Linked DNA regions of Homo sapiens. The protein of the gene in region 2 purifies or fractionates together with the protein of the main gene of each other region. This does not show direct contact. Each region holds a gene or a part of one and is shown on either strand. Other genes may lie near its edges.

Region 1 (3,650 bases), on a different chromosome or scaffold from region 2:
CGCCACTGCACTCCAGCCTGGACAACAGAGCAGGGGAAAAGAAAAAAAAAGAGGGAGCTTCTTTGTGGGCCTGACTGTCCTCCCCAGGAGGGGGCCAGGTGGCCGGGCAGAGGGTGGAGTGCCCACTCATGAAGGAGACGCCAGGGAGGATGCTGGTGACCACTGTGTAGAAAGGAGGGGCCAAGCGCCTGGAGCACTGAGACGGCTCTAGGCTCTCTATCAGCTGCCCCCGCCTCCCAGCTGGAGTCCATACCTTTGGGTCCATCCAAGCTAAAGGGGAATCATGGGGCTCTCACAGTCCCAGGACATCAGGGCCCCCTCTAAGGTTTTGCTTCTGTGTAATGTTAAGAGGGACCATCTTGGTGGGAGGCAGGTTGTGAGGCTCCACTCCCCACTTGCTACTGTGGCCTGGGAGCCTCAGCCTCCTCCCTGGATGAGGTGTTCCCTCAAGCTCTGGGCGACCTCAGTCACCTGCTGCCCCAGTGCTCCAGCAGCCATGTGGGATCCTGCCGGGGGCACGCTCTGCTCCCAGGTGTCCAGTGTGGTGTTACAGAAAGGACAGGCCCAGAAGGCCAGGGGCAAATCTGCTCTTGGGATGCAGGTCAGCACCCCAGCCCGCGCTCAGCCTGCGATAGCTTCCTCCCCAGCCATGCCCGACTCCAGGCTCTGCTCCCCAAAAGCAGAAACGCCTGGGCCTAACCAACGCCTAGGAGCACCCTCAAGAGGGGGCTGTGCAGCTGCCCCTCACAGACACCGCTGCTAGTCTGCTGCCTCCGCAGGTGTGTCTAGTGGAGCCTGAGGGCAGACAGACCCAGTGGCCCCAGGGCACCGTGACTGGGACCACCTGCCTGGTCTGCACCCAGAGGGAGGCAGCCTTCGGTCAAGAGCAGACCCTTCACACCAGTGGCTATGGGTCTTCGCCCCTCTTCTAACATCCTTACCCAACAAAACCAAGGCTGGCTCCAACGCCCCCCGTGGGGTGCTGAGCTGTCTACGCTCCACCCAGGCAGGGAGGACTTTTGGGAAGGCACCCCTGGCACTGCACTCTGCAGCCTCTAAGTGGAACATGGAGTTCTTTGCGGGCATGTGGCCCGAATCCCGCAGTCCCAGCAACAAGTTCTAATGGCACCAACGAGGAACCGGGGCCCATGGGAGGCCACAGGGCCCATGAAGACGCTCCCTAGGCTCCCCTGCTCATTCCTTCCCCAGGCTGGGGCAGCACTTACCAAGGCCAGGCTGATGGGCAGAGGCAGGGGTTGTGGGTTGGGGGTGGGGTGGGAGCAAGAGCCCAGGAGACAGGGCATTGTGACATCGTGCGGTGGTACCCCCACCAGTCTCTCTGCTCCCATGGAGCCGTGCAGGTCCCATCAGCAGTGCCACTGAGCTGGCCCCCAGTGTTGATGCCCTACCAGACTTTATTGGCCAAAGTGGCCTCAGACTATGTTCTTGGGGGCTCCGGGCAGAAGCCGCCGCTCAGGGAGGGGAAGCCACTTCAAGGCTCCTACCGAGACCTGGCACTGCCACCTGTTCCCTGCAGGGAGCCGCATGTCAGCTGCTGACCCGCCAGCCCAGGACAGGACCCTGCTCACGGCCACACAGGGTGCCCACCTGCTGCTGCCCCATCCAGAAAACCCAATTCCTCCACTTTCCAGATGGGAAACTGAGGCCCTCTGGGCAGACTGGGCCATGCGCAGGTGGTGCTGGGTTCCCTCAGGTGCAGCGAGGGCTGGGGGTTCCCCGGTCAAATGAAGGGGAATGGGGCATGAGGACAGGCGAGTACTTACTTTGCTTTGGCCTCCTAGGACAGCATGAAGGAAAAGCAGCAAGGTTAGAGGCAGCCAGAAAGACTAACCGGGTCAGACACAGCAGCAGGTCAGCCCGGGGCGGCCGGGGGCCTTTCCAGAAGCTGCTTGGCGAGGTGGTGTGGAGGTGACACTGGTGGAGATGGAAGCTGAGCGCCAGACAGACCCGCCGCCACCACAATCCCAGGTGGCAGCTGAGTCCACACAGGTGACGTCACTCCGTCATCCCCTGAAAGGGGAGCTCTTGGGATTACTGTCAGTTGGAGCCTAGGCAGGCCCTGGGGGACAAGCAGGGACCACTATCTGAGCCAACCTTTCCCAAATCCACCCACCCTGTCGTCACCTGAGCAAGGTAGCCTGAGACAAGATAAGCCAGCGCCCACAAGCATCCCCTGGAGCTGCCAAGGAGCTCCCCCAAGCCCCTCACCTGCACTGCCCCTGTGTCCGGTCTGCTGAAGGAGGCCCGGAAGATGACAAGGACCCTCAAGGGGGAGGCAGCCCAGGGCTCACATTAATACAGGGCCTCTCTCTCAGCAGGAGCCACCGTCAAGACAGGGCTGGCACCCAAGGGCCCCAGCACAAGCTACAAAGGCCTCCCAGACTGACTCTCCCACAATGTGCACACAAGGACAGGACCTCCACCCAGTTCACTCCTCGGCTGGAGACACTAGGTGTCCTGCCCCTAATCTCACCAGAGCCACCTCATAAACCCTGCAAGCTCTGCGAAGGGCAGCTGGGCACAGCTGAAAGCCCAGCCACCAGCCCATGTCCTGGGTGGGACTGGGCAGGAGGGGCCACCTCCTACTGCTGATCAACCCGAGAGCCCTGGCTGGGATCCGTCTTCCTTCACCAACGGGAGCTCCGGCCCCAGGGCCCTGCCCACCTCTGTGCACCCCACACTGCAGCAGGGAGCACCCTGCAGGGAGGAACTGGGCACCCTGCAGGGGTCTGGTGGAGACGAGGATGCTACGGAGGCAGCTGCCCCATGGGACCAGTAAGAGGGATCTTGGGTGGGCTTCCCTGCAGAGAGGAAGCCCTCAGGAGACACCACAGTAAGCCATGCTGGAGACCTGGAGGCCAGGCCCGTCACCTGGGGAGCTGGCCACTAACAGCGGGCAGAGAGCCTCCCAGGACAGCCAGCACAGCCCCCCACACGTCCGAGCCCACCTCCTCATTTCCCCGCTTCCCGCATTCCCAAGCATGGGAGGACCTGCCGGACGCAGCGCACCATCTCTCCTAACAGAGACCAAGTCTGAGCTTCAAAGCTTGCGCAGACGACAGGCACGTGCAAGCCTCTCCTCTCCAGCAGGAGAGCCCGGAGCAGGACACAGCGACTCTTTCAACTGCGTCCCGACAAACGGTCAGCCCCTTCGCTCCTGCAGTTTATCCAAGCTCAGGAGGAGCTTTCTAAAGAGAACACAGGGAGACAGCTGGCTGCCAGAGAAGCAGTCTTGGAAACGCCAGAGCCAGGCCCCAGGGGGAAGTGGCCAAAGTGTCCCTACTCTGCTCCTGGAAGCAGGCCAGGCTCACCACCAAGGCTCTTCCCTGAGGGGTAGACAGTGTCTGCCAAGCACCTGAGCCTCTGGCAGCTGCCCAGAGTTTGAGAGTGCCCTGGGGTCCTGGCTCTGGAAGGCTCCACCCAGCTAACAGGGCCTGTGACACAGGTGGCAGCCAGCAAGACCCACTGCAGCGGCATGGCCCTCACAGCCTCCCCTGTCCCTGTCCTGGGAGCAGCCCCGGCAGACTCCTACCCAGAACACTCCAGGTCAGGAGGGCAGGGCCCTGAGGAAGGTGAGGACATCCTGGAGAGCTGTGGCCACCAAGGTGCTGCACGGCCTGGAGGTCTCC
Region 2 (3,650 bases):
AATTAAAATTTGAGTGAAATTGCAAGAGGAAGTAACATTCAAGTCAAGTCAAAGTGTTTGAGCTGTCTGGTGACAGCACATTAATTACTTGATGAACGCTAAACATGAGCTGCTGCTATGCGCAGTACCTGGAGGCCCGGAACCTGCAACTTGAATGCCAACTCCTAAGGGAAGGATCCATGCAAAACAAAAACCTGGATGGAACTATGCACGTAATTAGCATCTGCTCTGAAATGGAGGTCAGCTCACACTTAGACACTTGTGAATGGGGTGTGTTTATGGTCTAACGTATGATAAGGGTGGCATTTGAGGAACTAAGAGTTGCTTGTCCCTTTCCTGATAAGGCCTGGGCAGGGAAGCTGCTAGTGATTAGACAGGACTTTTAGCTGACTGAGGTCTTCCTTTTGGACAACTGTTTAAAGCTGTAGGCTGGAGAGTTAGATGGTAAAGTAGCCTGTGGAAGCAGCCTTTGATGAAACCCGGAGGCTGTCAGCTCTTAAACCCTGTGGATTACGTGTAAGCTGAGTCATTCTTACAGTAAGCAGTCTCCTCCTTAGGAATCATCTCATTTTTCTCAGTCTGGGCAATCTCTAAAACAGAAAGGCAGGCTCTCTTTGGGGAGCTCTTTAAATGAATTCAGACCAGTAACACCTCTGATCTAGAAAGAAGCAGTTGATGGTGGGAAGGTGGTTACCAAGTAGCAACAAGGATTATTTCCATTTCAAGTTGTGTGTGTAGCACTTAATGCTGACACCTTGGAAAAAAATCAAGGCTTTTATGCCCTGCTTCCATCTGAAGATGTCTGTGTCCTGACCTTGTTAATATTTCCATTTGCAACCACGTCAGAGTATACCTTTCAACACTTGAACTTGTGTGGCATCCCTGCTGTAATATCTAGGCCAGTGTTTTGATTCTGTTTGCTGTTTTGCGGCCACAGCATTAGTTCTTCCAGCGTTATCTCTCCACCCACACTTGCCCAAGCATCCTATTTTCAAAGGTGGGAAAGAGCTTTCTGTTTGGAGTTGTCGTTGGTGGGTGTCTATGGATGGAGCCCAGTGATAACCATTCAGACTGTGTGTTGGCTTCTCACTTCTTAGTGGGAAGTGAGAATTCATGGAGGCCCCTTAAACAGCGGAGATCACAGCCTGGTTCTGTGGCCTGCCTGGGTTTCAGTCCAGGGCTGCTTTCCACAGCTCATGTGGGAATCTAACCACATTTTTTGACTCTAGTAAACATCATTGGTAAATGGCTGGAGGATGATAATAACCTTAAGAAAATAGAATGAGACGCTGGCTGAATGCAATGGAGCTGAGAGTGAGAAAAGACCAACTGTGGGGTTTGTTGCGTCACTGACTTAGAAATGTTTTCTCTGGGCACAGCTTTGTGGCCTGGGGCAGTTACTTCTTTGAACTCAGGTAGAATGTGTTGCGGGCATTTAAGTGGGCAACTGTAAAAATAACATCTTGGAAAAATAGTGAGCATAGGATATATTTTATTGGCCTTTTAAAAAGTAAAGCATTATTTTATCTGTTTTTATTGCTTCAGGCCATTCATAATCTAAGCTGCTATTCCATGTACATGAAACACTCGAGTGTCTGTTATCTGTAACTTTCATGTGTTTGGGGCTGTGGAGGAGTCTCCAGAATGTGGCCCCCTCCCTATGTGGGGGGTCTGGCCCTAGGGAGGAGCTGGCAGACAAAAGCCTTCCTTAGACTGCCTCCAAACCCTTCCTAGATAACTTCTGGCCTTCATCCCCCAAGGAATTCAAGGAGTAAGAGAGGAGGATTTTTTTCAGAAGGCCATATCCATGTTGACCCTGGTTTTTCTCGTTTCTGCCCGGTTATCTGCTGCTGCACATGCCAAGCAAAATGACCAAGGTCCATGGTCATTCGAAGCGCCTGGCTCTTTTCTTATGGGTGAAAGAATCTCAAGGGTCAAACTACATGCAGGTGGGGGAAGTGACGGTGTCCAGTCTCAGGTTCAGCATTCATGAGGTCCTGTGTACGTTCCAGACTTTCTGCTTTCAGTTTTGTTCCAGCTCTCCTTCCTGGGCTGGCCCTTTAAGTCCTGGTCACTGCCTGCAAATTTATCAGCCATTTCTCTGTAGCTCCAGTTGGGTTATTGGCTTCTTTGATCTGAGAAGGTTGCCGTCTCGACTGTAGCTAGTGTCCTGTTCTGTTGCTTCATCAGCCTATCAACACTCTGATCTCCCAGCCATCAGAGGAGTCTCAGTAATTGTTCCTTTATTCCATGAGCAAAGCAGCATGCCTTAGTTTTCTGGATCAGGATCAGCCCATTCCTGATAATCTCCCTCCTGTGCCATTAATTTTTCCTCTTATTACTAGTTCAGCAAGGCGACTGTGCAGCACCTTCCACTCTTGGGTTCTCTCTCTCTTCTGGACTTGGTTTCTCTAAAATCACCACTGTTCTGCAACGTAGCAAGCATCTTGGAGCTCCCTGGGAAGTTAGGATCCTAGGCCTTCATCTCCCAGCCATTGTTCCTTTAAAACAAACAGTAGCATAACGATTAGCATTTCTACACTTAATCACATTCAGTTCTGGTGGCTCCAGCCTGCAGTTTCTATGCTGACAGTTGTTAGATACTTCAGTTCTAAATGCTTCTCCCTTGCTTTCAGAATTTGCCATCTGGCCTTACCTCACTCAGGTGGCCTTAGCGGTCTAGCCAAACTTCTTTCCTACCATCTTATTTTTTAAAAATCTTTATACCTTCCTTCCTTTTCTTTCTACTTACTGTCATCTCCTTCCTCTGACCATCTAAGCACAACCAGCTCTTCTTCAAGCTCCCTGCCCCACCAAAGCTATCCACCTTTTAGGAAGACTCTTAAATTCCATTTCTGCTACTCACCAGCAGTGCATCCTTGGACAGTTTACAATTTGCACATCCTCTTTGTTCTCCAGTTTTCCCATCTGTAAGTGGGGGAGTAGGAGGAATGGTATCTCTTTTATGGGTTGTTATAGAAATCAAATGATTGATCCAGGTAGAGCCCTGAAAGCACTGTTTTACTGCCTATTTGTGATGTTGTAAAAGAGTTGGTGGCTCATTAGGGTACCTGGCTAAACATCTAGTCACATGTGGTGTCCCCTGGCCATGGCTGTGGCTGCCGCCATGTGAAGAGCCCTTGGAGGGCTCTGCATGTATTAGCACCTGCCAGAGAAAAGGATGTGGGCAGAAGCAGACGTTTATGTTATGAAACAATGTGCTCCCCCGCTGATAAGTGGGATTTCCCACACACTATGGCAATATATTGTCTTCCTTGGTGTCTCTGTGGCAGGGGGCACCTCTAAGCCACCTGGCATCTTTTGCTTAACTGGAATCTGCACAAAAGCAGAGAGTAAAGGCTGATTCCAGCTTTTTGCTATCTTTGGTGTGTATGGTGGGGACGGGGCAATGGAAAGACTAGGTCTCACGGTTACATAGTGAACAGAAGGTTGCTGTGTCCTTTTTTGTTAGGACCAATAACGTCTGTTTTAGAAAAGATCACTTTAATGGCTATGAGAACTGGTGATCCCAGTGCACATGTGGGTTGTGACATGTGCTTGTCACTCCGTGTCCACCTCCCATCCACCATGGCAGACCTTGAGCTTGGTGGAAGGGAGTCAGCAGTTCCCAGACACTAGTCTCGCAGTTG

The links. The genes of interacting proteins can lie anywhere in the genome.
Region 1: the proteins of TENT5C (region 2) and EEF1D purify together in Homo sapiens (affinity purification with mass spectrometry, with the first as the bait; 2 studies listed by BioGRID). This does not show direct contact.

What each region holds. Positions count from the first base shown.
Region 1 is NC_000008.11:143,590,863-143,594,512, forward strand, and holds part of EEF1D (elongation factor 1-delta), read right to left. Parts: exon of another isoform or gene 3,034-3,650; coding exon of another isoform or gene 3,031-3,033; exon of another isoform or gene 1,799-3,030; 5' UTR 1,785-1,798; exon of another isoform or gene 1,350-1,784; coding exon of another isoform or gene 1,227-1,349; exon of another isoform or gene 1-1,226.
Region 2 is NC_000001.11:117,612,478-117,616,127, forward strand, and holds part of TENT5C (terminal nucleotidyltransferase 5C), read left to right. Parts: intron 1-3,650. UniProt on the Homo sapiens protein: Catalyzes the transfer of one adenosine molecule from an ATP to an mRNA poly(A) tail bearing a 3'-OH terminal group and enhances mRNA stability and gene expression.